Regions from separate parts of the Homo sapiens genome. Here region 1 is linked to region 2. The links come from fine-mapping of genetic effects on plasma protein levels. A gene starts in region 2. The other region holds a variant in brackets. All regions are shown on one strand. Distances are from middle to middle.

Evidence for each region. PIP is the posterior inclusion probability: the model's chance that the variant is causal. The UK Biobank Pharma Proteomics Project read protein levels with antibody pairs (Olink). The fine-mapping took linkage between variants from a reference panel, not from the people measured, so its PIPs are less certain.
Region 1: its variant is fine-mapped to the plasma level of the EIF5 protein (UK Biobank, PIP above 0.99).

Annotation. Positions count from the first base shown.
Region 1 is chr14:103,341,091-103,352,745 of GRCh38, forward strand. It overlaps EIF5 (eukaryotic translation initiation factor 5), which reads left to right. Exons shown (of 12, transcript NM_001969.5): 12 at 1-3,935. Among named protein-coding and RNA genes, the nearest start is that of SNORA28, 9.1 kb to the left of the region's middle. The variant T/C (reference allele first, on the strand shown) is at 5,012.
Region 2 is chr14:103,327,699-103,339,353 of GRCh38, forward strand. EIF5 (eukaryotic translation initiation factor 5) reads left to right here and starts at 6,539. Exons shown (of 12, transcript NM_001969.5): 1 at 6,539-6,562; 2 at 6,691-6,899; 3 at 7,955-8,234; 4 at 8,338-8,419; 5 at 8,979-9,151; 6 at 9,418-9,529; 7 at 10,629-10,774; 8 at 11,037-11,195; 9 at 11,474-11,635. The coding sequence starts at 8,163. EIF5-DT (EIF5 divergent transcript) reads right to left here and starts at 6,962. Exons shown (of 1, transcript NR_158216.2): 1 at 3,974-6,962. SNORA28 (small nucleolar RNA, H/ACA box 28) reads left to right here and starts at 10,151; the gene lies at 10,151-10,276. RefSeq lists an enhancer at 5,995-6,114 and silencers at 6,435-6,854, 6,995-7,044, 7,155-7,394.

The DNA of each region.
Region 1 (11,655 bases), 13 kb after region 2:
AAATTTTCCTCCATTATCAGCCAGAAGTGCAACATGTATGTGCAAAAGCTAAAATGGCTTAACATCATGCTACACTTTACACTAAAAATCTATTACTGTGAGTGGTCTGTTATTAAGCCCAATGAGACATCTAGGGAGTCCATACACATCAGTGAGCAGATGTAGTTTGCTTATTTATAGCATGTTTCTTTTTGAAAAACTAGTGGTGGACACATTTGGATCACATTTATACAGTTATAAAAATAAAGGTTTGATTTTGGTCGTTCTTCAGATGTTTGGCTCTGAATGACTTAAGCTGAAGTAACTGGCTCCTTACTTTAAATGTTCTGCCATCATTTCACCTGATGAGCATTCTTGGAGCCTGCCAGATATTGTTAGGTCCTGGGGCTGCAAAGAGGTCCTCAACAGGATGTAAAGCAAACTTAATTGTAATTAATTTATTCAGCCCATTAAGAAAGTACTAAAGTTTTATCTCTGTAGTTCCTCAAATTGGCATCTGGTAATGTACATTGTGAGGTAGACTGATAATGAAATGACAGTGTAACATCTTAACCAAGAAGTAAATATGACCTCAGTGTCCTATAAATAATGTAAGAGCAGGATTTGAAACTTGGAGAGCTGTTTTCTCATTTCATGTACACTTGCCCCAAATTGTCTTTGAAGTCGTGTGCATTGCACGTTGGATGAGCCAGGGAAATTATTACATTAACAAGCATTTTGTGTGTACGTAGTAGTTACTTTGTACTGAGAGAACTTGCTTTGGGGTGCAATTAATAAACTGATTTTATTTGGGAGAAACAAGGAAGGGTGCACTTAACTAGCAACCTAAGCATGATTTTTCAGCTTTTGCCCTTAGGGTTTAAATTACAATTCCAAAATGTTAGACATACTGTATTTTTTCGTTCAGTGTGGCTTTAATTTTCCCCTCTTGCAGTTTGTTCTGTAATGCCTTTTACATTTGGACACATAGTTTATGCTTTTTAGATTTTGGTTGCTTTCTTGCCAAAATAAGTGTTAACTGTGTTTCAAACTTGATTTTCTTTCCTTTTTCTTTTTTTTTTCTTCCAGAATGTCTTATTTAAAAAGAAAGCTAAAAGCATACTTCTAAGTCAGAGCCTCTATTTTGGTGTAAGACTTGGGATATTTTTTACTTCACATTGAATATAGCCAGGCACCCAAGAAGTCTGATGGCCACCTGAGTGCAGGTGACAAGGACCTGACAGAGCCCATGCAGGGCTTTAGATTTGGACACACAAGAGTTGATAACTTCCTCATGAACTCCTTGCCTGATCTAAACTCATATTATGGGTTCTGACTGTTTGAGTAATCATCTTCAAGGTTAAACCTCTTGGCAGTTACCCTTTTCACAAAGTGCACAGTGGGAATCGAGAATCGATAGGGTTAATTTTGGAGCAGTGGCTTATACCATTCACCTCTGTTTTTTTGTGATTATTTCACAGATAATGAGACCTTAATAACAAATAGGCGTAAAAAAATTTTCACATTGAAATGATAGAAACATTTGATGTAATAAAACTTGGTTGGCTTGATATTTTAAGGAATTGAAACCTAGCAATCTTATTGGAGAGACAAGAATTGGTCTCCAGCTGCCTTTGATCAAGATTCGGGTGCAAGTGGAGCAGGAGCCATATACCTGGAGGGAATGTGCTTTGTCACACCAAAGAGGATTTTTTTTTCTTCAAACTTGTATGTTGCCTAGGTTTCAAATTCTTTGCCGCAAGGCTGATCTGCTTTCATTAACTGGAATTCTGTAGGAGATACTGGTGACCTAAGCTAAGTTGCACTCAGCATACTCAGTGTCAAGCTAATGAGGTTCTATTATAAAGGTTCTACTTTTAATCTGAGGGAAAACATGTTCAGGGCTTCTAGAACACTAAAAAATTTGGCTTAAACCAGTGTTCAGTCTGGTGCCAAACTTCGAATGGAATACAAATTCACATAATCTGAACTTTGTTCACAGGTTATCCTAATAGAGTAATTCTTCACTTTGCTCTATTGAACTGTCTTAAGGATTTGTTTAAACAGCTAAGTTACTTGATTAAAATAATGATAAAATTGTATTTTGTCTTTGCTTTAATATTAAAGTTAACAAGTTTTCATTTTATAATGAGATCAAAGCATTGGAATCTGCCCTGTTTTGTAGCCGTTGCTTTGGATTTGTGTTGGATGTATCCTGCAGTTACACTTGCCAGCCCCACTCACAAAAGTTGTTCATTTCATTGGGTCACTGGCTTTATTTGCTAGTCTTGTCTGTGAACTGAGCATCTGCCTCAGTTTTATTACTTGAAATCTTGGCAGGTGCTTAATAGGGAACATACATACAGCTATGTAACTGTGAATAATTGTATATATCTCTAGTTAAGAATGAGGGAATGGGGAGGTTTGCTTTCTAAACAAGTGCATTCTGAAATTGACTTAAAAATTTTTAGTGTGGGTCCTAAAGTTTAGAGATGGGCAAGGAGGTCTCTAATCCACCGCTTCCCGCTTGAGAAGGGAGGGGTATCAAAATTGAGCCCCAAGCTGTTTGTTCCAGTGTACCAAGCACTGACTTTATGCCTTTGGCCTGGAGATGGCAGAAGTGAAAGCTGGCCATCTGCAAAAAGCAGATAAGTGAGTTTGAACCTTTTGCATTTTGTTAGCTCAGTCAGTCCTCATCGTGGTCCTGAGGCATAGGTACTGTTGTACCAAGGTCACTTATCTAACAAAATAACCCTTCATGTATTTTAAATTTATTTGACAAGTCTGCAGACAATCCTTATCTAACCAGCTATTTTCTTAATTGCTACAGCTTGACCTACCAGTATTCCGGAGTAACCAGCAAATGCAAAGTTGACCTTGTTCCTGCATCATCTTTTTGATGGTTCAAATTTCAGCCTCCCTGACTACTACAAAGCCAGAGCAGTCTTAGTACCAGAAACAGTGTTGCACTTTCGTTGCATGTGCTGTGTGACCCCAAGGGGACAGGGAGTCACTTTGGTCATCTCTGTCCCCAGTACAGATCTTGATTCATAGTGACATTCCATAAGTGGGGTGACAGCAAATGACTTGCAGGTAGTCTCATTGTAGGTTTGTGCACCAGAGTGACCCTGTGAGCCTTTGTTAATAGGTTGGGAGCTCAGGGTGTTTATGTCCACCTGTCTGGTCTAGCCAAACAGTTTTTTTCTGGGAATCAAATTTCTGTGGTTTTTATGGCCAGAAATTTTAAGGACTTGTGTGTGCTGGGATATGAGAATAGAAGCTACAGAGTTCTTTTCTTGGGACCTAGACTGGGAGGTGCAATGTCAGGACCTCCAGGTGAATGGTAGGATCTGAGTTGACCCTGCAGTTCGGTTATGCAGTCAATTATTTCTTTTTAAGAGGAGGAGGATTCACTTGGGTGTTGGGATCAAATTTGGATTCTGTCCCAGGCCTTACTGTAAAACTAGGGGATTGCCTTTCCATATCTGCTGGGGGTGGAGACCCTTATGTGCAGCACTCAATCCCACTGGAAGCCTAATGCTGCAGTCAGAAGCAATGCCTGGCTGGGGCAGTAGGGGAAATTCCACCCAATTTTGCTATGAGCCTAAAACCTCTTTAAAAACGGTCAGTTAACTAAAAAATAAAAATCAAGTCTTTAGGAGAGTAGAAAACACAATTAACTAAAAAGCAGGGACATCTGAAAGAGACGTATTAAGTTAACATTTTTAAAAATCCAAATGAAAGTAAATGGAATAAATGTATCAGGTAAAGGACAAGTTGTAAGCTTGGATTTTTAGGTCTAGCAATACACTGTTTACAAGAGCATCACCTAAAATGTGACAAAAGATGTTGAAAGGATGAAAAAAGGTATAGTAGACATACACTAACCAAAAATGTAGCTCTTTGAATCTCAGAAAAAAGTAGATTTTAATAAAGTGTGAAAGTTGTCAATCAAAGCGGAGTCACTTGTGTTCAAGAAACAAAAAAACAACCCGAACAAATAGAGTAGGGTTTGCAGTCTTGCGATGGTGAAGGGTCTCATGCTGGTATGCCCAATAACGAAATTATCACAAAAGATTGCAAAAACCACAGCCTTGCACAAAAAGCATCACAGCCTTATGCAAAAAATACTTCAAGGACATCTACCCAGCAACAGCCTGTCCAGCTGTGGACTTGCATCGCCCTTGTTATGGATCTTTGTAGCCACAGGTGGTAATCTCAAAACAGTTATGTAATCTTCATTTATCCTTTAAAAACCATTCTCGGCCACGCGTGGTGGCTCACGCCTGTAATAACAGCACTTTGGGAGGCCGAGGAGGGTGGATCACCTGAGGTTGGGAGTTTGAGACCAGCCTGACCAATGTGGCGAAACCTCATCTCTACTAAAAATACAAAAACTTAGCCAGGTGGGGTGGTGCATGCCTGTAATCCCAGCTACTCGGCTGAGGCAGGAGAATCGCTTGAACCTGGGAGGTGGATGTTGCAGTGAGCCGAGATCGTGCTACTGTGCTCCAGCCTGGGCGACAGAGTGAGACTCCATCTCAAAAAAAAAAAAAAAATTCTCTCCCTTTACCTCCCTAAAGTACACACACAGCTCACAATGACGTGTATTCCCATTGCAATGCCCTATTCCTGAATACATATCTTTCTTTTAGAGAGCTCGTCTCTCTCATTTAATTGACATAAATGGGGTCAGAAATGGGACCTAAAGAAAGATGACTATCAGAAAAAAATACTCTTTTTTGGCCAGTATGCATGAGCCCTTTGCGCTGTAGGCTTCCATGGCTCAAATTTTTGTCCCTGGTGAGTCTTCTCTCAGGCCAGCCCTCCCTGTTTTTGGTGGAGGCTTTGTTTTTCTTTTCTTTTTTCTTTTTTTCCTTTTTTTTTTTTTTGAGACGGAGTCTTGCTCTGTAGCCCAGGCTGGAGTGCAGTGGCGCAATCCCGGCTCACTGCAAGCTCCGTCTCCTGGATTCACCCCGTTCTCCTGCCTCAGCCTCCAGAGTAGCTGGGACGACAGGCGCACGCTGCCACA[T/C]CCGGCTAATTTTTTGTATTTTTAGTAGACACGGGGTTTCACCATGTTAGCCAGGATGGTCTCGATCTCCTGACCTCGTGATCTGCCCGCCTTGGCCTCCCAAAGTGGTGGGATTACAGGCGTGAGCCACTGTGCCTGGCCTATTTTTTTTTCTTTTCTTTTTTTTTTTTTTTTGGTAGAGGCTTTTTGATATTCAAGATCAGGTTTGGTTATAAGGCCACCTTAATAAAGAACCTTACATCCCTCCTGAGATGATAAAAGACTGACTTTTCTGGTAAGTCCTTTCTGGTATAAAGACAGAGGTCTCTAGCTTGAGTATTCTGGTTTCTATTGAATTCACATTCTATCTGTGAGGCATGTCATTTCTGGTGAATTCACTTTTGGTCTGAGCGTGTAATTTGATCTGCATGCCTGGGTTAAAATTTTGTGAACACTCATCTCTTGGTGTCCTGTGATTTGGTTTCACTCGTTTCCCTGGGTTTTTTTCTAAACACCTTCCACGTTTTAAATAGTGGGCTCAGGATGTCTAATTAAAAGCCACTAGGGCAGTTGCCACCATCTAAAACACCAATCCAAACTCCTGACATTCTCTCACAGGATAAAAAAGATATTCTGGTCGGGCACAGTGGCTCACGCCTGTAATCCCAACACTTTGGGAGGCTGAGGTAGGAGGATCACTTGAGACCAGGAGTTTGAGACCAGCCTGGGCAACAAAGTGATACCCTGTCTCTACAAAAAAAACTGAAAAATTTAGCCAGGCACAGTGGCCTGCACCTGTAGTCCCAGCTACTCAAGAGGCTAAGGTAGGAGGATCCCTTGAGCCCAAGAGTTCAAGGTTGCAGAGAGCTATGATCGTACCACCGCAGTCCAGCCTGGGTGTCAGAGCAAGACCCTGTCTCAAAAAAAGAAATTTTACAGAAGTACAACTCCTAACAGAATAATGCTGGCCTGGCGCTTTGAAATGATTGCAAAAAAACTATGGAACAGACAAAATTGAACTCAATAATGGACTCTAAGTAGACTTAGCTGACAGCCACTCCCTTCGAACCTCCCTCGTTGTTCACAGGTGGCTAGAAGGTTTTGACACTGGCTCCTAGTCCCCAATCACTCCCTGCAGTGTGGGACAAGACTGGCAGCCAGGACAGATCCACCCTGGTATCAAGGGACAATCAAGACCCAGCCACAGGATGACTGACCAGCGATGCTTTCAGAGAGAGATGCTGACCAGAGGCGGAAACGTGAAGGCTGTCAGAATGAGAATGGAGTCATTTGTATTTTAAAAGGCAAACACCAAACAAAAAAAAACCCTGAGAAATAGAGCCAGGTGAGGCTGTGAAGAGAGCATTCTCATGCTTGTTTGTCCTATCACGACTGTCAACGATCACAAAAGACTGCAAAAACCACAACCTGCACAAAGGCCGTCACAACCTTCCACAAATAATACTTCTACAAGGACATCTACCCAGCAACTGCCTGTCCAACCTTGGACCGGCGTCGGCCTTGTTATTGACCTTCATGGCCAAGGCTGATTATCTCAAAACAATTATGTAATCCTCCTCACTTTTCCTTTAAAAGCTATTCTCTCCCTTTACCTTCCTAAAGTACACACATAGCTCACTATGACATGCATATTCCCATTGCAATGCCCTGTTCGCAGATACCTTTTTCTTTGAGAGAGCCTCTCTCTGTTTATTTTGTTGACAAACCAAGAAAAGTCATTAGGAATAAAGAGGATCAGCACAATGTGATGAACAATTCAACACATCAGAAATAAAAGTTCTGACTGGGCACGGTGGCTCACGCCTGTAATCTAAGCACTTTGGGAGGCCAAGGCGGGTGGGTCACCTGAGGTCAGGAGTTCGAGACCAGCCTGGCCACTACTAAAAAATACAAAAATTAGCCAGGCGTGGAGGTGAGTGCCTGTAATCCCAGCTACTCAGTAGGCTGAGGCAGGAGAATTGCTTGAACCCCAGGAAGCAGAGGTTGCAGTAAGCTGAGATCGCACCACTGCACTCCGGCCAGGGCGACAGAGCAAGACTCTGTCTCAAAAAAAAAAAAAAAGAAATAACAGTTCTATCACTGAATGCACCGATGAAATACTCTCAAAATATATAAAGCAAAAGTTTACAAAAGAGCCGTAGTGAAATACCACTACACACCCACCAGAACAGCTGAAATTTGAAACTTGACAACACCAAATAGATGGTGAGGAAGTGGGGCCACTGGAACTCTTACATACTGTGGGTTGGTATGTAATATGATACCAACACTTTAGGAAAAGTTCTAACAATTTCTTACAAAAACTGAACATACACCTGCCTTCTAAACCCACAATTCCACTCCTAGAGAACTCCACACTTAATAGAAATGAGGCCAGGCGCTGTGGCTCACGCCTCTAATCTCAGCACTTTGGGAGGCTGAGGGAGGTGGATCACGAGGTCAATAGATCCAGACCATCCTGGCCAACATGGTGAAACCCTGTCGCTACTAAAAATACAAAAATTAGCTGGGCATGTGGCACACGCCTGTAGTCCCAGCTACTCGAGAGGCTGCGGCAGGTGAATCACTTGAACCCAGGAGGCGGAGCTTGCAGTGAGCTGAGGTCGTGCCACTGCACTCCAGCCTGGTGAAAGATCGAGACTTTGATGCAAGAAATACATAAATAAATAAATATGAAAGCAAGCGTTCCTGAAAACACTTATGAGAATGGCTATTGCAGCTTTTTTTCATAATAATCCCAAACTGTAAACATCACAAGGACCTATTAACAGGAGAATGGATAAACAAACTGTACCATATGCTCAAAATTGGATATTAACAATAAAAAGGAATGAATTACTAATGTGCACAACAAAAGTTATGAATCTCAAAAATGTACTAAATGAAAGAAGCCTTAACAAAGAAGAATACGTATGTACAGTTCCATTTATATGAAGTTCTAAAACAGGCTACACTGATCTGTGGTGAAGAAATCAAGACAGTGATTGCTTCTGTGGATGGTGTGGGGTGGGGATTGATGGGAAAGGGCACAGGGGAACCTTCCACGGTGACAGCAATGTTTTATATCTTGATAGAAGTTTGGGTTACATAGGTGTATGGGTATATGCATTTGTCCCAAATTTGTTCATTTCATTGCATGTAAATTTTACCTTAGGCCGGGCACGGTGGCTTATGTCTGTAATCCCGCACTTTGGGAGGCCCAGGTGGCTGGATCACCTGAGGTCAGGAGTTCGAGACCAGCCTGGCCAACATGGTGAAATCCTGTCTGTACTAAAAATACAAACATTAGCTAGGTGTGGTGGCAGGCATCTGTAATCCCAGCTACTCGGGAGGCTGAGGCAGGAGAATCGCTTGAACCCAGGAGACAGAGGTTACAGTGAGCCGAGATCGGCCATTGCACTCCAGTCTGGGCGACAAGAGCAAAACTCTGTCTCAAAAAATAAAACAAAGTACAAAAAACTAGCAGTATGTGGTGGCACATGTCTGTAGTCATAGCTACTCAGGAGGCTGAGATGGGGAACTCGCTTAAGCCTGGGAAGTTGAGGCTACAGTGAACCATGATCATGCCACTGCACTTGAGCCTGGGGGACAGAGTAAGACCCTGTCTCAAAAAAAAAATAGATAAAATAGATATACAAGATATATATTGTATATACAGATATTTCAATTAAAATATATAAAATATGAAATTATGTATTTCATTACATGTCTAAGATTCTCAGAGTGGCCATGGCAACCAGTGTCTCTCAAGATGGCAGCTGTGGTGTCAGCATGGGTCCCAGAATGGGTGGAGCAGAGCGCCCAGTGGACCCTCAAGGGAGCTGGAACATCAGTGAGAAATCACCTTTGTTGTAGGAAGTCACTGAGACAGGGACAGTGTGGTCAGCAGAGCCTCCTTGACTGAGGTGTGCCCGACGCTGAGCGTGTCCTTTTCTAAGTTCTCCTTTCAGTCTACGTCAGTCTGCATCAGTCTATGTCAGTCCATGTCAGTCTATGTCAGTCTACGTCAGTCCACGTCAGTCTATGTCAGTCCACGTCAATCTACATCAGTCTATGTCAGTCTATGTCAGTGCATTTCAGTCTACATCAGTCCATGTCAGTCTACAACAGTCTACGTCAGTCCACGTCAGTCTACGTCAGTCTACATCAGTCCATGTCAGTCTACGTCAGTCCATGTCAGTCTACGTCAGTCTACGCCAGTCTGTCAGTCTATGTCAGTCTATGTTAGTCTATGTCAGTCCATGTCAGTCTATGCCAGTCTATGTTAGTCTATGTCAGTCTATGTCAGTAAGTAAAAGGGATTTTTGCTGAAACATTTCTTTGTCATGCCTGTGGCTAGCCGCCCAGATACCCTCTACAGAAAAGAGTCAATGTTATCAGAAATAGTTTATGCATATTCAAGCAAAATCATACTTTTTCTCCTTTTTTATAACACAAACGATTGCATGTTTTACATCCTGTTCTGAACCCTGTTTCTTTCGCTTTATATTTTGGAAATTATTCCATAGTAGTACATGTATATTTTCCTAATCAGTTTTTATAGCAAAATAATATTCCATTGCTAGAAGGTAGCAATATTTATTTATTTAACCAGTGCCCTATTGATGGACCTTTGAGAAGTTTCCAGTCTTTTGCTATTACAAACAATACTGGGTTAACCTTTAGTATACTGGAAAAAAGAATTATATAATAATTTACCTCGGGTCCAAAGGACCCTTTTAATTTTATTTATATTTTAAGTAGCCTCATAATAATTTACAGAAGAATAAAGGGATCATAACAAACAACCTTATTAGAAATTATAATAAGAATGTAAGTGTAGGAAACCCAAATTTCAATCCCAAATTTTCCTGTTTTGAAAGTATATATACCAAGAAAGGGCTGGGCACGGTGGCTCACACCTGTATCCCAGCACTTTGGAGGCCGAGGTGGGTGGATCCCTTGAGGTCAGGAGTTCGAGGCCAGCCTGGGCAACATGGCAAAACCCCATCTCTACAAATAAAACAAAACAAAACAAAACAAAAAAAATAGCTGGGCATGATGGTGCATTCCTGTAGTCCCAGATACTTGGGGGGCTGAGATGAGAGGATCACTTGAGCTGAAGAGGCACAGGTTCTCAGCTGAGATCGAGCCACTGCACTCCAGCCTGGGTGACAGAATGAAACGCTGTCTTAAAAAAAAGAAAGAGGTGGCTGGGTGCAGTGGCTCACGCCTGTAATCCCAGGACTTTGGGAGGCTGAGGCGGGCGGATCATCTGAGGTCAGGAGTTAGAGACCAGCCTGGCCAACGTGGTGAAACCCTGCCTCTACTAAAAATACAAAAATTAGCCGGGTGTGGTGGCGGGCGCCTATAATCCCAGCTACTTGGGAGGCTGAGGCAGGAGAATCGCTTGAACCCGGGAGGCAGTTTGTGGTGAGCCGAGATTGTGCCATTGCATTCCACCCTGGGTGACAAGAGTGAAATTCTGTCAAAAAGAAAGAAAGGAAAGAAAGAAGGAAAGAAGGAAGGAAGGAGGGAAGGAAGTAAGGAAGGAAGGGAGGGAGGGAGGGAAGAAAAGAGAAGAGGAAAGAAAAAAAAGAAAAGAGAAAAGAAAGAGAAAGAAAAAGAAAGAAAAAAAGAAAGAAAGAAAAAGAAAAAAAAGAAAGAGGCCAGGAGTGGTGGCTCACACCTATAATCCCAGCACTTTGGGAGGCCAAGGCAGGTGGATCATCTGAGGTCAGGAGTTTGAGACCAGCCTGGCCAACACAGTGAAACCCCATCTCTACTAAAAATAAAAATTAGCCGGGTGTGGTGGTGGGCACCTGTAATCCCAGCTACTTGGGAGGCTGAGGCAGGAGAATTGCTTGAACCCGGGAGGCGGAGGTTGCAGTGAGTCAAGATCGCGCCACTGCACTGTAGCCTAGGCAACAAGAGCAAAACTCTGTCTCAAAAAAGAAAGTATATATACCAAGAATGGACTGAATACAATGACTCACATCTGTAATCCCAGCACTTTGGGAGGACAAGGTGGAAGGATTGCTTGATCCCAGGAGTTCAAGACCAGCCCAGGCAACATAGCAAGACCCTGTCTCTGTTAAAAAAAAAAAAAAAAAAAAAAAAGACTAGGCAATGTCCTTTGCTTTCCACTTACTGCTCATGCCCTGTCTTGTATGTTGAATCTAGAACATATCCATCTTGTAAAAACTGCTTCCAGATTTCAACTACATCTTTAGTAGGTTTTAGCTTATCATGACTTCTCACTCTTCTCTTTGAATCTGTGAAACCCAATACTTTTGAAAACTTTGACACTCATAATTTTGTTGAGAGGATGGCCATCTTCTTTGTTCCATAATTGTGAAATATTGTCATGGTTAGATTTATAAACCCCAATTAAATGGTCAATCCAATGAATTGTTTTCATTTCTTCATCATCTATTTCCTTCCAATCACCCCCGTGTATCCAACTTTATCATCCACTTACTGAATGTATCAAGTAAAGTATGTACACAAACATCGTAAAAGATGAAGAAATATTATCATGCATCCTTTTAACAAAATGTATCCCATTTCTTGTCACAAAACGTTGTGTTGCTAGTTCTTCCTGTTGAAGGACTGAATATGGATATGAGAATCCATAATTCAGCCGGGTGCGGTGGCTCATGCCT
Region 2 (11,655 bases):
AATGCTGTCTTACAAAAGAAGTCCCCACTCTGGGGTCCATTTGCATCTCCAGTGTCTGGCGCCCCCCGGGCAGGATATGCAGTGGCTAATGAAAATCTGTAGCATAAAGGAAAACGCATCCTCACAGGTCTGAAGACAGCACACCTGAGTGGATCTTCTGGGATAGTGTTAGCTATCAGGGTTATGACTTGGATCCTGCCTCCCCTCATGTGAAACTTTCAAAAGCACTGGAGTAAAGGAAATCCAGCTGAGGGAAGAGAGGCAAATCCCTGGGACCCAGATGCACCACACAGGACTATTAGTCCCTAGTCAGGGGGAAGAGCTCTGAAGCTGGGAATCAGGACACCTGACCCCCCAACTGGAGGCAAATCATCTCTCTGAGTCTCGGCTTCCTCGTCCATAAAATGAAGGAATAAAATGTATACTTGCCACCTCCCAAGGTGTGAGGAGGACAGTGAGAGAGCATGGGTGACGAGGCTTTGTCAGCACGGCAAGGCCATTGGCACCTTCCTAATTCTAACAGCCATGATCAGTCTAATGCCACTCCCATCACGTCGCCATTAGACCCGGGGACCACTTCTCCAACACACCCATTGGGGCAGAGATTTTGTTCTTCTTATCCACAGACTATCTAAATTAGGGCAGCTCGAATATCTCAAAAGAAAGCTGCTGAGACTATGCTGACGGGAAGAAGGGTATTTGGGTTCCAACATCATGGGCGTCCCCCAGTTTTAAGGCACAGGACAGTCCTGGGATCAGCAGCTCCTGCAACCCCTGAGAATTTGTCACTGGGGTGCTGTGTGTGTCTTCAATGTGACCAAGACAACACCAATCCAATATTGTAGGGCCTGCTCTGATCCATCCACATTTCTCTGTCATCTGCTACACGTAGGACGCTGCGCAGGCAGAATCAATGCCATTTTGTGTTTTTTTCTTTTTCCAGGAATGGGACAATGCAGGATGGCTGCTGGGTGGGATCACAGCTCCACACTTCGGAGGAGGAAGACTTTGTGTCAGTCTCCAGTGATCCCTCACCTGGACCCCTATCTTTCCTCAAACACCTCTGCTTCCTGCCTCTGTCCCTTTTGGAACTAAAGGCCTGTTCCTCAGCCAAAGTCCAGAATCCTTTCTTCTCAAGCATGAGTCCCCTGCCCTCCAGTTGCTTGGCCCAGTAAGGAAGTCAGAGAAGGAAACAGGCAACTGCAATCAAGTGACATGAATGCCAGTGGTGTGGCGTAGGTGCAGCCTAGCCATGGGATGGGCAGGTCACGAAGGCAGGGAGACATGCTGTTCAGAGCATCAGAGATTTCACGAAGGGCAAGCTTCAGTGGGGTGTCCAGCAAGCAGATATTTGCCTCTACTTGTTTACATGTGACCTCCTGGGCAGGGTCTGTGATGTAGGCGGGCCTGCACCCTCACTGCCTAGCACAGAATTATGTATTGATAGGGATGCACTAGATTACCATGGTTTAGGACACCAGCCCTCACGTCAGCCGATGCCTCTGTACTCACCAGATAACCTTCAGTTCCCTTCCAGCAGCTTCAAATGTCTGCTCTATGAACACCCCTGTGACTGGCTGGTGCTAGAAGAAAAATTATGCATATACCCTGTAGCTTGTCCTGAAGTAGGGGGGACAAGAACTTCAGTTAACAGTGTGCAGCTTTAAAAGTTGAGAGGTTGGGCACGGTGGCTCACACCTGTAATCCCAGCACTTTGGGAGGCCGAGATGGGCGGATCACCTGAGGCTGGGAGTTCGAGACCAGCATGACCAACATGGAGAAACCCCGTCTCTTACTAAAAATACAAAACTAGCCGGGCATGGTAGCAGGTGCCTGTAATCCCAGCTACTGAGGAGGCTGAGGCAGGCGAATCACTTGAACCCAGGAGGCAGAGGTTGCAAGAGCTGAGATCGTGCCATTGCATTCCAGCCTGGCAACGGAGCGAGACTCCATCTCAAAAAAAAAAGAAAAAAAAAAAGTTGAGAGGTGGGTGTCACAGAGGAGGACCACTGCCCCTCACAGTGTACAATATCTGAGTCCATTTGAGAGCTCACAGCTCAGAAACACAAGGCTCTCAGTCCATGCAGAGTTGATCTTGGTGGGGGGTGGGAGGGAGGGGACACTCATTCACATTCAACAGAGTCACAGCCAATGTGTAAACAACCAGAAGGCCAGTTTACCAATCTACCTTTCCAGCAGCTATTCCTGTCATCAGGGCATGCACTGAGGTGTGCAATTCATGCACTCATTCAGCAAGGTTTTGACAAGCACCAAGTGTCCATTAGTGCACGGACTGTGAGCACCTGACTGGGGAAAATAATGCAGCCAAATGAGGTGGAGATCCAGAAACGGGAAGTGGAATTGTGCAATGAGCTTGGCGTCACACAAGCTGGAGTTCAAACGCTGTCCATCATTTATTAGGGAGGCGACTTTGGGGAAAATTGCTTAACCTTCCTGAGTCTCTTTCCTCACCTGTAAAATGGGTATAACAACATCTCCTTACATGATTATTAAAGAATGGGATTACATATGTAAAATGCCTAGTTTTGTTTGTTTTTGTATTTATCTGGAGAGGCCATGCCACATAATTTTTAAGGGAACAGGCTTTGGGATCAGACAGAGCTGTCTTTAAATCCTAGCTCTGCCACTTACTAGGTACATGATTTGGGTAAGTTGCTTAATTTTTTTCCACTAAGCCTTGGTTCGCTCATTTGTAAAATGGAAATACGAATTCCTCATAGGGCCTGGGAAATAAGATAATGTATTCCAAGAACTTAGAAAACTCCTAGGATATGATAAGCATTTAACAAATGGTATGATTAAGAGTAATTTTTAGGTGCCAATATCCAGAATAAACAAGGAACTCAAACAACTCAGTGACAAAAAATAAATAAATCTGATTTTTAAATAGACAAACGATCTCAATAGATATTTCTCCAAGAAAGACATACAAGTGGCCAACACATGTATGAAAAAATGCTCAATGTCACTAATCAACAGGGAAACGCAAATCAAAACCACAAAGACAAAAAATAGCAAATGCTGGCAAGGGTGCAGAGAAAAGGGAACTCTGATGCACTGTGGGTGGGAAGGTAAATTAGTACAGCCATTAGGGAAAACAGCATGGAGGTTTCTCAAAAAACTAAAAATAGATCTTCCATATGATCCAGCAATCCCACTACTAGGTATTTATCCAAAGGAAATCAAATCAATATTATCAAAGAGATATCTGCACCCCCATGTTTATTGCAGCGCCAGTCACAATAGCAAAAGATATGGAATCAACTTAAGCGTCCACCAACAAATGAATGGACAGGCTGGTTGCAGTGGCTCATGCCTGTAATCCCAGCACTTCAGGATGCCGAGGTGGGAGGACTGCTTGAGGCCAGGAGTTCGAGACCAGCCTAGGCAACATAGTGAGCCCCCCCCCCACCCCTCCCGCGCCATCTTATTATTTAAAAAAAAAAAAAAAGGATAAAGAAAATGTGTTATAGGCTGGGCGTGGTGGCTCACGCCTGTACTCCCAGGACTTTGGGAGGCCAAGGCAGGTGGATCACACAGGAGTTCAAGACAGACCAGCCTGTCCAATACAGTGAAACCCTGTCTCTACTAAAAAAAAAAAAAAAAAATTAGCCGGGCTTGATGGCACGCACCTGTTGTCCCAGCCACTTGGGAGGCTGAGGCAGGAGAATCGCCTGAACCTGGGAGCCGGAGGTTGCAGTGAACTGAGATCAGACCACTTGCACTCCAGCCTGGGTGATACAGTGAGACTCCGTCTCAAAAAAAAAAAGTTTTACATATACTGGAACACTATTCAGTCATAAAAAAATAATGAAATCCTTTTATCTGAAGCAACATGGCTGAGACTGGAGGACAGTATCATATTAAGTGAAATAAGTCAGGCACAGAAAGATAAATACCACATATTCTCATTCATATGTGGGAGCTAAAAAAAAATTCGAGTTCATGGAAGTAGAGACTTGAATTGTGGTTTATTAGAAGCTGGGAAGGCTAGTGGGAGGAGAGGAGAGGGAGAGGTTGATACAAAATTGCAGCTCAATAAGTTCTAGTGCTCTGTAGTATTTCAAGGTAAATATACTTAACAACAATCTATTGTATATTTTCAAAAAGCTAGAAGAGAGAATTCTGAATGTTCCCAACACAAAGAAATGATAAACATCTGAGGTGATGGATATGCTGATTACTGTGCTTTGATCATTACACGTTGTATACATGTACTGAAATATCACTTTGTATCCCACAAATGTGTTATTATGTATTAACTAAAAATAAAAGGGAGAAAAAGAACACAAAAGTATTTTTTTAAGTTGTCCATGGTTGCATACAAATGAGTGGTACACATATTAAAAAGCAGTTAAAATTATTACAAACTTCAACGAAATTAAAAATTGTGCCACTAAACATACAAAAAAGCTAATTACTTCGTGTTTCATTAAAACTTTTCTGAAAAGGCAGGCCTCTCACCTCAGACTAGTTTCATGCCTATACTTTCCAACAGAGTTTCTAAAATAACATCATTTTTGTGCTGCCAAGCAAAAAGTCAGATCTGTTTCAATACTGCTAAGTCATGCTCCACAGTGAAACAGCAGCAGCATGTCTGGGATCCCCTTTTCTAGTTTGTCTGATGGGAACCCTGGTACTCACAAGGCACTGTGCACTTGGCTTAACAACTATACACCAAGGTACACACTGCGGGATTATAAAAGTCCCTGCCCTAAAGGACACAAATCACCTCTCAATTCTGGATTGTGCCTTTATTTCTTCCTACCAACACTGCCAATTTTTAAGTTGTTTATAAAGCTTTTAGTTATGGAAGCACGATCTTGGATTTTGATATAAAAATCAACATAGCTGCCAATTCTAACCTCAGTGCAAATGCAACTGGTCCAAAACAAAGGGCAGCCCCTTATCTACCTCATCCTGTCCTCAGCAACATTTCTCTTTTCCAGATCGGGAAACCTGCACGGCCGCTCAGGACTTCTCGATGACTGCACCTTAGAGACCAGAGTGCAGGTTAGCGGGGCTCTCGCTCCATCAGTCAAGTGAGGTCTTCAAACTTCAGGGTGAACTATGGATGTGTTTTTAAGACTCAAGTTTTCACAAAAAAAATCCAAGTTTCAGAAAGAATGGGAGAGTTTCAACAGAACTAAAATATGAGAGCCTCTCTCTAAATAATAAAAATTTTCTTTTTTTTTTTTTTTGGAGACAGTCTCGCTCTGTTGTCCAGGCTGGAGTGCAGTGGTGTGATCTCGGCTCACTGTAACCTGTGCCTCCCGGGTTCAAGGATTCTCCTGCCTCAGCCTCCCGAGTAGCTGGGATTACAAGCGAGCCACCACGCCCAGCTAATTTTTTGTATTTTTAGTAGAGACAGGGTTCCACCATATTGGCCAGGCTGGTCTCAAATTCCCGACCTCAGGTGATCCGCCCACCTCAGCCTCCCAAAGTGCTGGGATTACAGACGTGAGCCACCGCGACCGGCCTAAATAATAGTAATTTTCAACGGAATACATTGGAATCTCATTATAAATGCCTGCTCTGGGCTACGATTTGCTTATCAAAGAATTCACAAGTCATAAACTAGAGGGGGTGGACTCGACGTGATGCCCACTAGGAGAAAGGTGACAAGAGAAGCACGAAGGATAGCGCTTTTCAACCCTGGGAGAGCAGGGAGGCCTTCACCAGAAGGTGGGAACCCACCACGAAGCGCCTTCAGGAGGCCCCAGGATTCCAAACCAATTAAGGGCCTCCTCTTCCGAAAACGGGAGGCGACGCGCTGAGCTAAGCGCGCAGGCTGGGTTGCGGGCCGACACCGAGGCGGCGCGGCCTCGCGACCGCCCTGGGCGGTCACTGGCGAGTCACGGACTCGTTCCGCCAGCGGCCAATCCACCCCGAGTCCGAAACAGAAGACGTCCCTGGGATGAAAGACCCAGGCCTGGGGCTTAAGGTGGAAAAACAACTCATTCCTCGAGGCCCGGAGTCGGGCGTCCCGGGAGAACGGGAAAGGGAGATGAGCGCCCGCTGCGGGGAGAACGCGGTCGGGTTCCTCTCCCCGAAGGTGGCAGCCGCAAAAACACGGCCTCGAAAGCAGTTTCGAGGACGATGGCTCCTGCGTCCCGGGAGTCGCCATGACGCCGCGGCCTGTCCCAGACCCGGCGAGGGAGGGGACCAACCACCATCTCCCCCTCAAGGCCCAAACCGACAAAGAACGGCCCCCGGTACCCCGGCCCCGCCACCAGGGCCACTCCGGGTCTCGCGAGACCCAAGGGCTGCGCCGCGAAGACCTCTGGGAAAGGCGGGGGGAGGGGAGAGGAAGGAAGCGAGACCGGGGCTGGAGGCGGGCCGAGGCCGCGAGTTGAGCCTCAGGAAGCAGAAGGGGCGCGGAAAGATGCGATTGACGTCGCAAGCGAACCAATGACGAGCGAGCTGTGGCAGGCCTCCAGCCAATGGGCAGTGAGGCCTGACGCGGGGGGCGGACGCTGGGGCCGAGGGTAGCTTGAGCGCGGCGGCGGCGTTGTTCAGTCAGAGCGAGAACATTCCAGAGGTGAGTCCGGTGAAGGGGCGGCCCCCTGCCCGGTGCTTCCCGCCCCCTCGACCCCTCGGGCCGCTGGCTGGCGGGGAAGGTGCACTCCCCGACCGCCCACGGCTCACGGCGCCGTCTCTCCGCGCCAGGTCGCCCAGCTCCGGCGCTGACGGGTGTGGACCGCGGACGTCGCTGGGACAGCCCCTCCCCGCTGCTCGGCGGCGGCACCTGGCCCGGCCGCTCCTCGCTGCGCTTCGCCTCCGCCTCCTCGGACTCGGACTCGGGTTTATATCGCGCCTCACTTCATCCCAGTCCCGGGCGAGCAGCGTTGGGTTTATGTCTTTATTTGACGAAAACGGTGAGTCGCGGGCGCGGCGGGCCAGGAGATGGCGGCCGCACAAGATGGCGGCGGCCGCCGCGTGACCCCGCCGCGGCGTGTGGCGCAGTTTGGGCGGACGGCGGGCGGGCGCGGGCCCGGGCGCCGGCCGCCCCCTCCCCGCGCGCTCCCCGGCCCGGCCTCGCCCCCTCCCCGGCATGGCGGGAGCGCGTCGCGCGTGCCCGCCGCTCGGGCTGACTCAGGCTTCAGCTGCTGCATTTGTGAGTCATCGCGCGCTCTGGGGCGGGGGCGGCCCGATCCCGGCACCCCTCGGCCGTGTGTCGCTTCCCGGCTGTGCACCCTCCGGGGCCGCCGGCTCTCGGGGGACGCGCTGGGGATGGGGCCAGACGCCCCGGTCGCGCGCCCCCCTCCTTCGCGGAGCTGCCCGGTTCGCCAGCCCCCGCGGAAACGCCTCGGAGCGCGGTAGCCATGGGGACCAGGGCGAAGGTTAACCGAGTATTTGAATAGCGAGGAAAAGGGAGGCCGGGGCGAGCCTGGCGTTCGCTCGCGCTCTCTTGCTTAATGGCAAATTGTGGGCGAGCGCTGCGTTTAAGGAAGTGCTGCTTTGAAGTAAGCCATGGTTGCCGAAGCAACGATTAGTTGTAGAGAACAGTTCCCTAGGTTGCCCTTAAAAATGAAGACGAACGGGGGTGTGCCTGAGAAGTTTGCTTATCCAGGCGGGGTGGGCGGCGGAGAGGGCTCGGGTTCGTTCTTCAGCACTTCCAGGATGGCCGCAGAGGCAAACCTGCTGATTGCCCTCGGTCTGATGGAATCTCACGGCGGCTGAGGCAGCACAGCTTGTGTTTTCTTGTCAGGCATTTCCCTACCAGTCACAGCTTAGTCGAAATGGAGGCCTTTTTATGTTCCCGCAGATTGTACTGTGTTACATGAGAATGGCTGTTTGCATGTGATCTCAGATGCTTTTTAAGGTGGAGTTAAGCAGAAGCATAACTAGGATGTAAAAAGGAGGCGTTTCCATCCAGCGATGATGTTAAACCTGGGGGGATTTTTGTGTGTTCTTTCCCTTTTTCTTTCAGAGCTGTTGCGCAGCCATTGGTACCTGTATTGGGGAAACATAGCATACAAGCAAGAAGCTTACAGCCTCAGTGGCGAAAATTTTTTCATGTCAGAGACCGAGAACTCTTGCAGTCGTTTATGTCATCCCTTCTTCTCCAGACAGAAGATACCAAAAAGTTGCAATCAAAGATCTCTTCATCTTATTGATAAAGCCACTAATAAGCCAAAATGTCTGTCAATGTCAACCGCAGCGTGTCAGACCAGTTCTATCGCTACAAGATGCCCCGTCTGATTGCCAAGGTAATAAACTGCTCTTCAATTTAGTTGATAGCTCTTTTTGTAGAATTTTGAAGTTTGCATTTGTCAGGGGAAACTGCACAACTAAAATTCTTATTTCCTTTAGGTTGAGGGCAAAGGCAATGGAATCAAGACAGTTATAGTCAACATGGTTGACGTTGCAAAGGCGCTTAATCGGCCTCCAACGTGTAAGTAAAGCTTGGAAAAGTCCACAGGGCATATTATGGATAGAGTCTTCAAAGTCTTTGAGCTGCAAAACTTGTTCTAATTGTATGCTAGCTAATTACCTTACAAGTTAAGTGAGGAACCGTGGTTTATTGGTTGCCATGAGTTTACAAAACTACCAGGGGAACGCATTTAAAGAGTGGATGGCTGGGCGCGTTGGCTCACACCTGTAACCCCCAGCACTTTGGAAGGCTGAGGCAAGCGGATCGCGAGGTCAGGAGTTCTAGACCAGCCTAGCCAACATAGTGAAATCCTGAGTCTACTACTAATACAAAAATTAGCCAGGCGTGGTGGCATGCGCTTGTAGTCCCAGCTACTTGGGAGGCTGAAGGGGGAGAATCGCTTGAACCCCGGAAACGGAGGTTGCAGTGAGCTGAGACCACGCCGTTGCACTCCAGCCTGGGTGACAGAGTGAGACTCTTGTCTCAAAAAAAAAAAAAAAGTGGTGTTCGTACAAATGTGAGTGAGTAGCCAGAGATCTAGTTAACTGTAACGATCCAAACTCCTTTTTCATTCAAATAGATCCCACCAAATATTTTGGTTGTGAGCTGGGAGCACAGACCCAGTTTGATGTTAAGAATGACCGTTACATTGTCAATGGATCTCATGAGGCGAATAAGCTGCAAGACATGTTGGATGGATTCATTAAAAAATTTGTTCTCTGTCCTGAATGTGAGAATCCTGAAACAGATTTGGTAAGTGCTTTTGTGGTTGTCGAAAGAAAAAGCCATATACCTGCTTCTGTGATACCGCTAAGTCACCTTCCTGAGAAGGCAGAGCAAATGTAATTTTAAATCAAACACAAAACTCCAGTTTTCGAGATATTTCCATTCTTTTTTTTAAAGTAGGTCACTGTGTGAAAAAAGTTTTCTTTGCATGTGAAGCTGTCTGTGGTTTAGATGTCCTCTGATTAGATATTTTCATGTTATATTATGGATAACATTTGTTATTTTTTTGGCAGCATGTCAATCCAAAGAAGCAAACAATAGGTAATTCTTGTAAAGCCTGTGGCTATCGAGGCATGCTTGACACACATCATAAACTCTGCACATTCATTCTCAAAAACCCACCTGGTGAGTCTTCCATGATGAACTCCTAAGATCCTAAGATAAGTTACTAACTGTTGGGAACAAAATAGAAGGTTTTTTTGTAATAGGAATGTAAGGGAGACTGGGCACGGTGGCTCATGCTTGTATTCCCCGCATTTTGGGAGGCCAGGGCGGGCACATCACTTGAGGCCAGGAGTTCAAGACCAGCCTGGCCAACATAGTGAAACCCGTCTACTAAAAACACAAAAACTAGCTTAGCATGGTGGTGTGCTCCTGTAATCCCAGCTACTCCGGTAGCTGAGGCATGAGCGTCGCTTGAACCTTGGAGGCAGAGGTTGCACTGAGCTGAGATCGTGCCACTGCACTCCAGCTTGGGCAACAGCGACTCTGTCTCAAAAAAACAATATAAGGAACCTTTTAGTCCTTGTACTATATTTTATCAAATCTAAGACATCTTTCAAAAGTGTATTGTTAATTACCATTAAAGGTGAAAAATAGGCTGCCAATTAAACTGTGCCATATCAATTAAGACATTATCTGAGGGTAGATGAAGTAATGACTAAAATTCTGCTGGAAACCCAGCAAAGTTTCTTTTACTGGCATTGTTTGGTAAAGAGGGCCCCCTTCATTAAACTTGAATATTGCAAGCAACACTCTGTGGCAGATGATCAAAACTGTCTGACACAATTTGAGCTTGCTATAGCAAGAAAGTCTAACCTATTCCGGTGTTCTCTCTCCCATGAGACAAGCCGTTATATAGACTTAAACAGTGTTCCACCTGTTGGCTAAAGCTGGGTTGAGTTAATGACTTTGTTCATGAGGGATGACAGGGATCCTTAGGGCCACCTCTCCCTAGTGGAGGCATCATCACTTCATCTTACTCTTTCTTAGCAGTTACAATACCCCTAATATTTTGTGTCACTCCATTCTTAGACTAACATTCTTACGTATGAAATACATGATGAATTTGATCTGTGAAGCCTCTTAGGTAGCATTGTGTGTGCTGTGTGGTTTTTCTGAGGGGATCCATAGGAAAATAAGGGCAGGGTTTTAAACGTTAATGATGGGCAATGAGGTAATGTAAGTTATGGGGTTAAATTTTTATTTCCCTTTTTTTCTGTAGAGAATAGTGACAGTGGTACAGGAAAGAAAGAAAAAGAAAAGAAAAACAGAAAGGGCAAAGACAAGGAAAATGGCTCCGTATCCAGCAGTGAGACACCACCACCACCACCACCACCAAATGAAATTAATCCTCCTCCACATACAATGGTGAGTGCAGGGTTGATGGCCTAGTGGGCACTAAAGTTGTGTAAAGTATATGGCATTTGGTTGAGGTGGGTGGAAATGTTGAAACTAGCCTTCAGTGTGTAATACACTAATATTGTGGATTCCAAGTACTGTTTGTTGTTTGAATTAAGGTGAACCCAATTTTGGATGGAGATGGACTTGATGCCATTAACTTGGCAAAATCTGAACCTTTTTGTTGTTGTTTTTAAGGCCTTTGATCAAGTAGCTCTGTTTTCATAAACAGGAAGAAGAGGAGGATGATGACTGGGGAGAAGATACAACTGAGGAAGCTCAAAGGCGTCGAATGGATGAAATCAGTGACCATGCAAAAGTTCTGACACTCAGTGATGATTTGGAAAGAACAATTGAGGAGAGGGTCAATATCCTCTTTGATTTTGTTAAGGTAAAACATTTGCTTGGTCTGTAAATCAGCTTCAACCCAGCCTTGTTTGTGCCTTTAGATATATGATACTTTAGCAGTGTAATTAGGATTACTCTAATGCACGACTTTTTAGAACTCTTGTTCATTTAAATATTTTTTGCGCGTGATTCCAGGCACTATGTGTCACAACTGCCAAATTAGGCAGGAAAAATATGTTCATCAGAGCAGGGACTGGCTGGTGTCTTGAGCCTGGCAAAGTGTGCCTCCATTGCACTGAATTGTTTTCCTTTTCTTTGCAGAAAAAGAAAGAAGAGGGTGTTATTGATTCATCTGACAAAGAAATCGTTGCTGAAGCAGAAAGACTGGATGTAAAAGCCATGGGCCCTCTTGTTCTAACTGAAGTTCTTTTTAATGAGAAGATTAGAGAACAGATTAAGAAATACAGGCGCCATTTCCTACGAGTAAGCAAAGTGCTCTGGAT